2 linked regions of the Homo sapiens genome follow. The protein of the gene in region 1 interacts with the protein of each later gene in a biochemical or structural test. Each region holds a gene or a part of one and is shown in the gene's direction. Other genes may lie near its edges.

Evidence for each region. Proteins that work in one complex are often made in the same cells at the same time.
Region 2: the proteins of CUX1 (region 1) and CDK7 form a complex in vitro, tested with the Homo sapiens proteins (one study listed by BioGRID).

Annotation. Positions count from the first base shown.
Region 1 is NC_000007.14:102,254,626-102,258,733, forward strand, and holds the end of CUX1 (Homeobox protein cut-like 1), read left to right. Parts: 3' UTR 1-3,608; downstream 3,609-4,108. UniProt on the Homo sapiens protein: May be involved in intra-Golgi retrograde transport.
Region 2 is NC_000005.10:69,241,386-69,244,885, forward strand, and holds part of CDK7 (cyclin-dependent kinase 7), read left to right. Parts: intron 1-3,500. UniProt on the Homo sapiens protein: Serine/threonine kinase involved in cell cycle control and in RNA polymerase II-mediated RNA transcription. Cyclin-dependent kinases (CDKs) are activated by the binding to a cyclin and mediate the progression through the cell cycle.

The DNA of each region.
Region 1 (4,108 bases):
GTGCTTGGGCATTGACCAGCCAAAGCTCACATTTAGAAAGCCCTCAGTGCTTCTGTGGTTTCACCTGGGCATCGACGACATTAGGGAAGCCTTTGTGACCACAAGGGCAGGGCTTGTGCCCTGAGTGGCGAGGTGGTGACCTGAGGCCAGTGTGATGTGGTTGGATCTCAGCGTGTACTGAATGCCAGTCTGGCCGGCACACTCGAACGCTAAGAGAATGGTCCAATTTGATGATCTTATTTCTATTTCGATCAGGTTTTGACTTTTTGTAGATGAAAACTACCAGGGAAAAGGGGAAGCAGGTACCCAATAAAGTTTAGAAAGATCCAGTCTGTGAAACCCTTAGAGATGGGCTGAAAGTTAAGTCCACCAACCCTTGGGCTTAATCAGGACGGAAGAGGAGGGGGTGTGGGGGGCAGAGCGTAAAACAAGCCCCAGCCCTACTCCCGGCCCCCCAGCCCAGTCTTCCCAATCCCAGAGGCCCCGGCGGCCTGTGCTCCTCACCACCCTGGTCAGGGGAATAGAAGGAAATGCAATTTCCGCCTGTCTGCCCGACTTCCAAAAACTGCCTCCTCCTGCCCAGGCCTCTCCCACCACCACCTTCCCTCCAAAGATAACCGTGTCCATGCCATCCGTGGCATCATCTCGAGTTTTCATTTTTGGATGAAGTGACATTTAGCTTTAACAAGACATTTCCAAAGCGCCTAGTCTCCTCCAAAATGCTAACTTTAAAAGTTGGGCATTGTAGGCGAAAAATCCCAAAAAAAAAAAAAGACAAAAAAAAAAGGCTGGCGAGAGAAAGACATTTGGCTATGCATAAATGTGCACTTCCCCCATGCCCCCGTTCTTAAACTCTTAAGATGCCTTTGAGTTGCTTTTCATGAATCCTTTTAGTTTACCCGATAATGTTAAGAAAGCATTAGTCTACGTTACTGTAATTTCTGTAGTGTTTACGCTTTAATTTCTACCACAAAATATGCTATATGCTATGTATCAAGCTTTCTGTAATCAGAAAGAAAAGGTGCCTTATATCCCAATGTCACGGCTACATCCCTATGGAAATTAATCAGAAGCACAGTGTGTACGGAAGCATTGGGACTTCTGCTGGTGAAACAAGAGACCATTCAGCAAGACACATTGAAGTGGCACGGAGCTGCTTTTGTTTTATAATTCTTTTTTCCCCCCTTTTCCTTCTTCTTTTTTATTATTTTATTATTTTTTTTGTACTTTGCTTTAAACGGAAAGCACTTAAATAGATGACTATGTGTAAAAGCTCTGTGCAATTGAAATCATTTTTCTTCATTTTAAAAAAATAACGTATTGCACACCAAATGAACTCAAAGTAAGCTTTAGACCAGGACGATTCAGGTTATGAATGAGTTTGTTCACTGTAGTTCCGTTTGTTCATGAACCGAAGGGAAAACAGGCCTCCCCGACTCCCTCCAGTCTCCCAGCCTGCCTCTTGGTGACCACTGTGCTGGGCGTGCAGGGCCCGCGGGCTCTGGCCGGAGCCGCTGGCCTGACGAGGCAGGATAGGGAGTATCCGTGATTCAGAAGCTGAGACCCTTCCCCAGTGTCTGAGGCCACAGCCATCCCTTCCAGCACTTAATCTTGTCTTGTTGAAATGGACTGACTGCTACTGACCTGCCGGCGTGCGTGAGGGTGATTATAAAAGGATGTTTCCTTGAGAAAAAAAAAATTATTTCTATCCTCTTCTATTTATTATTAGGTTAATCATTTAAGTACTTATCAGGAGTGTATTGTTATTTTGTGTTTTGTTGTCATAAATGCTTTTTGCTGTCACTCTAGTGGTTACTATCCTCTGCCTTCCTCTCCTCCCCTACTCCCCCAGAGAACCAAGGCGTCTGGGGGATTGACTGGGGGGCAGAGGGGGTTTCCCCAGCAAAATCAAACACCTGTCTCCAGAGTAGCCACTCAAAAACTGGTGGTCTCTATGTGTCTAACTTTTTAAATGAGAGTGTTTATGAACAAAAAAATTTACCAACGTGTGAGGGAGTTGCTGAGTTGAAGAATGCTCGCTTGAGGAGCTTCAGAGGAATCTTAGCAAAGCCAAGTTCAGTTCCCCAAAGCCTCCTAGAGCCTCTGGTAAGACTTCTGGGTTCATGAAGTTTCGGCGAGCCGTGGTCAGAGAGGGCGCGGTGGCCTGGCCAAGACTTTACCTCCAAGCGAGAGAGTGATTTCTTGCAAGGCCCGCATGGGTTGATACGTTTTGGTTGGTTTTTTGTTGTTGTTTTTCTTGCGTACAAAGTTGGTCAAAACCATCTTTCAAAGCAACAGTGTTTTGTAGTACCAGGCTGTGGCTTGAGGGCTCACCTAGGAGATCATAGGCAGAGGGCCCCTTTCCCCTATAGGTGGTTCAACGTGGAGGAAGGTTGGGTGTGGAGATTGCTTGCTGTGGCCCCAAGCTCAGCCAGCAGGACACCCAGTTGTTGCCAATCAGGTGTGAAGGTGAGGCGCCCTGCCTTGATCCCATGGGCCCAGCAGAAGGAAACTTACCCCAGGCCAAGGCAAGGGCCCTGCTCACCCCAAGGTAGGCTGGGAAGAGCATCTCTTTCCATATCATCACCTCCCCTTCTCCAAGATTGCCGGGGGCCCTGATTTTGTTCTCTCTTTGAAAGAAACCCTCCACCGAAACAATGGTCCCCATCTCCCCAGAAGCCTTTTTTTTTTTCATTTTTCTCTAATTAGTCTATGCATTTCTCTCTCTCAAACCATCTTCTGCCTCTTCCCTTGAGAAAACGGGCATCTCACGTACCCCCATCTGAGACCTCTTGGAAAAAAAAAATCCCGTGTATTCTGGAGATGTGAGAATTCACCCAAAATTCTTAAAACATTGGAGAATAGCTTGTTATAAAATAAAAGTGGGGGTAAAAAGAAGGTGGTTTTCCCCACATCCCTTTGCATTGAATAAGAGACCTAGTTCTTTGCGTTTGTGCAATAACTCTTTGCTGCTTGCCTTGAGAGCGGGTAGCACCACGCTCCTGTCCAGACTACTAACAGCACAAGACGCACTCACAGGGTGGCGGAATCTTCCGGAAAACTCTCTATAAGCTCAGCTCCCCCCACCCCACCCCCACTCTAGCGTTTTGTCACGTCTTACATTTTAGCAGTATTTTATATTTTCTGTAACGCACCAAGTCTTAGATCTTTCTAGAGCTTGTTTGTTCATCCTCACAATCACAGATTTTTTTCTCCAATCCTCACAGAGACCCAATTGACCAAAAAAGAAAAAAGGAAAAAAAAAAAGTCGTCTTTTTTTTTTTTTTTTGTACAAATCGCTTTGAGATGCCTCTGGTGTGTTGCTGTGTGACATCTCTCTGGTAACATTTTATTTCTTGCTATTTGTTTTTCTACATTAAGAGTCAAAGTTGACCTGGCTGGCGTGGGGGTGGGGGAGGCACCCGTCGGCCCCTTGGTGTTGTCCCTCTGTCTTTGGTTAGCCATACGATGTTTGTTCTCAGCACTGTACAACGGTCCCTATATAATACGGAGAAGCAATATCACTGTATGAGACTCACACCATGTATTATTATTCACTAGCACCCTAGGTGTGATAATTGAAGTAAATATCTTTTATACAAACACAAGAATGTGTGGGTTGTTTTTATTTAAAGTGCTCTGGCCTGAGGACGAGCAGCAAACACTGTCATTCGAGGTCCAAAGGGCACCTCAAGAATCGCCGTTCCCGAGGTCGTCCCCTTTGCACCTGTCCGCAGGTCCTCGGGCGTGTGGCTTCCGGGCACACAGAAAACCGTGTGGTTCTAGGATACATGGGGATCTCGGGCACTGCTCTGTCAATCTGCATCTGGTTCACAGGAAGGGCTTCGCCAGGGCCTGCGTTCCTACTTGCTGTTGTCACCAGCACTGTTTGCCTACCCTTGAACCAAGCCCTTACCCTCCCTGGCGTCCGCTTCCTTTTCTGTAAAATGGAGACACCATCTCCTGTCATATAGGCTTGCTGTGGGGAACCAGGAATGGTGGCCAGTGCTGGTGCGGCACTGGGCTGGTGGTGGCAGCCCCAATCGATGGCACTTGGGCGACCAGGACTACGGCCAGTCTCCTCTGCCGTGTGGCCTGCAGCTGGTCA
Region 2 (3,500 bases), on another chromosome or scaffold:
TCTCGGTTTACTGCAACCTCCGCCTCCTGGGTTCAAGCAATTCTCCTGCCTCAGCCTCCTGAGTAGCTGGGATTACAGGTGCACACTGCATCACCACACCCGGCTAATTTTTGTATTTTTAGTAGAGACGTGGTTTCACCTTGTTGGCCAGGCTGGTCTCGAACTCCTGACCACGTGATCCGCCTGCCTCAGCCTCCCAAAGTGCTGGGATTACAGACATGAGCCAACGGGCCCGGCCCTCATTGTAGTTTTCATTTGCATTTTTCTGATGCTCAGTGATGTTGGCACCTTTTCTTATGCTGTCTGCCATTTGTATGTCTTCTTTTGAGAAATACCTACTCAGATCTTTCGCCCATTTTTAAATTGGATTATTAGATTTTTTTCATATAGAGTTGTTTGAGCTTCTTATATATTCTGGATATTAATCTCTTATCAGATGGATAGTTTGCAAATATTTTCTCTCATTCTGTGGGTTTTCTCTTCACTGTGTTGTTTCCTTTGCTCTGCAGAAGCATCTTAACTTGATGTGATCCCATTTGTCCATTTTTGCATTGGTTGCCTGTGCTTGTGGGGTATTACTCTAGAACTCTACCCAGTCCAATGTTCTGGAGAGGTTTTCCACTGTTTTCTTTTAGTAGTTTCATAGTTTGAAGTCTTCAACTTAAGTCTTTAATCCATTTTGATTTGATTTTTGTATATGATGAGAGATATGGGTCTAGTTTCATTCTTCTGCATATGGATATCCAATTTTCCCAGCACCACTTATTTATTTTGTTTGCAACAAAGAAAGAGTTTAATTGTCACAGGGCCAACCAAGTGAGGAAGACAGTAGATAATTCTCAAATCTGCCTCCCTGAGAATTCGGGGGCTAGGGTTTTTCAAGGATAGTTTGGTAGGCAGTGGGCTAAGGAATGGGGAATGCTGATTGGTTGGGTCTTGGATAAAATTGTAGAGAGTTGAAACTGTCTTCTTGCCCTGACTCAGTTCCTAAGTAGTGGTCACAGAACCAGTTGAGTCAGTTTCTTCATATGGGCTCCTGGTCCAAGTGGCACCAGTTGGTCCATCAAAATGCAAGGTCTGAAAGATACCCCAACCACCAGTTTTACGTTTTACAATAGTGATGTTATCTATAGGAGCAATTGTGGAGGTTGCAAAATTCTTGTTACTTTTGGCTACATAACTCCTAAACAATAATTCTAACCTCGTGTAATTTTACAAAGATGCTTTTAGTCTCTGAGCAAGGAGTGGGTTAATTTTGGGAAAGGACTGTTAATCATCTTTGTTTTAAAGCTAAACTTTAAACTGAATTTCTCCCATAGTTAGCATTGCCAACACTCAGGAATGAGCAAAGAGCTTGTGAGATTAAAAGCAAAGATAGGGCCAGGCGCAGTGGCTCATGTCTGTAATCCCAGCACTTTGGGAGGCGGAGGCAGGCGGATCACCTGAGGTTGGGAGTTTGAGACCAGCCTGACCAACATGGGGAAACCCTGTCTCTACTAAAAATACAAAATTATCCGGGCGTGGTGGTGCATGCCTGTAATTCCAGCTACTCTGCAGGCTGAGGCAGGAGAATTGCTTGAACCCAGGAGGTGGAGGTTGCAGTAAGCTGAGATTGCACCTTTGCACTCCAGCCTGGGCAACAAGAGCAAAAACTGTGTCTCAAAAAAAAAGCAAAGATGGAGTCAGCTATATCACGTTTTACTCACTGTTGTAATTTTTGCAAAGGTGGTTTCAAAAATATGCCTTTTTGGCATGTTGATTGTTGTGAGCTGGTTATCCTGAGAAACTGCAGATACAGGAGTAGTTCTGAAAAGTTGCCCTTTTTTAAGGGAAGTGTACGTTTGTAAAGGAGTATCTCTTTGACAGGGTGTCTCCCTCTCTGCACCAGGAAGAGAAGAAAGACTAGAAAGACTAAATCTCTAGAGACTGTCAATGCAGAAGGCATCAACTTAAGTCTGTACAGCAAACCTAACCTCTGCTTAAGGCACAGCACCATTTATTGAAGAAACTGTCTTTTCCTCATTGTATGTTATTGGCACCATTGTTGAAAATGAGTTTGCTGTAGATGTATGGATTTTTTTCTGGGTTCTCTATTCTGTTCCATTGGTCTGTGTGTCTGTTTTTATGCCAATATCATGCTGTTTTGGTTATTATAGCTTTGTTGTATGAAGTCGGGTAATGTGATTCCTCCCTTTTGTTCTTTTTTCTTAGGATAGCTTTGGCTATTCTGGGTCTTTGTGGTTCTACACAAATTTTAGGATTGTTTTTCCTATTTCCATGACGAATGTCATTGGTATATTGATAGAGATTACATTGAATCTATAGATTGCTTTAGGTTGTATGGACATTTTAACAATATTGATTCTTCCAATCCATGAATATGAATTATCTTTCCATTTTTTTGGTGTGTTGTCTTCAATTTCTTTCACCAATGATAGTTGTTTTTTTTTTTTTTTTTTTTTTTTGAGATGGAGTCTCGCACTGTTGCCTGGGCTGGAGTTCAATGGTGCAATCTCAGCTCACTGCAACCTGTGCCTCCCGGGTTTGCGCCATTCTCCTGCCTCAGCTTCCTGAGTACCTGGGATTACAGGCGCATACCACCACAGCTGGCTAATTTTTTGTATTTTTAGTAGAGACGGGGTTTCACTATGTTGGCCAGACTAGTCTTGAACTCCTGACCTCGTGATCCGCCTGCCTTGGCCTCCCAAAATGCGGGGATTACAGGCGTGAGCCACCATACCCGTTCAGTAGTTTTTATTTTAGAGATCTTTCACTTAATTTGGTTAATTCCTAGATATTTAATTTTATTTGTAGCTGTTGTGAATGGGATTACTTTCTTGATTTCTTTTTCAGATTGTTCACTGTGGGCATATAGCAGGGCTACTGATTTTTGTATGTTGATTTTTGTATCCTGCAACTTTTGTGAATTATCAGTTCTAGTCGTTTTTTGGTGGAGTCTTTAGGTTTTCCCAAATATAAGATCATATTGTCACCAGGTGTGGTGGCTCATGCCTGTAATACCAGCACTTTAGGAGGCCGAGGTGGGCGGATCACCTGACCAACATGGAGAAACCTCGTCTCTACTAAAAGTACAAAAAAAATTAGCCAGGCATGATGGCGCATGCCTGTAATCCCAGCTACTTGGGAGGCTGAGGAGGGAGAATTGCTTGAACCTGGGCGGTGGAGGTTGTGGTGAGCCAAGATCACACCATTGCACTCCAGCCTGGGCAACAAGAGCAAAACTCCGTCTCAAAAAAAAAAAAAAAAAAAAAGATCATATCGTCTACAAACAAGAAGAATTTCACTTCTTTGCTTGCTCTTGCTAGGACTTCCAGTACTATATTGAATAACAGTGGTGAAAGTGGGCATTCTTGGTGTGTTCAAGCTCTTAAAGGAAATCAGTTTTTCCCCATTCTGTATACTGACCATGGGTCTGTAGTATATGGCTTTTATTATGTTGAGATATGTTCTTCTATACCCAGTTTTTTAAGAGTTTTTAT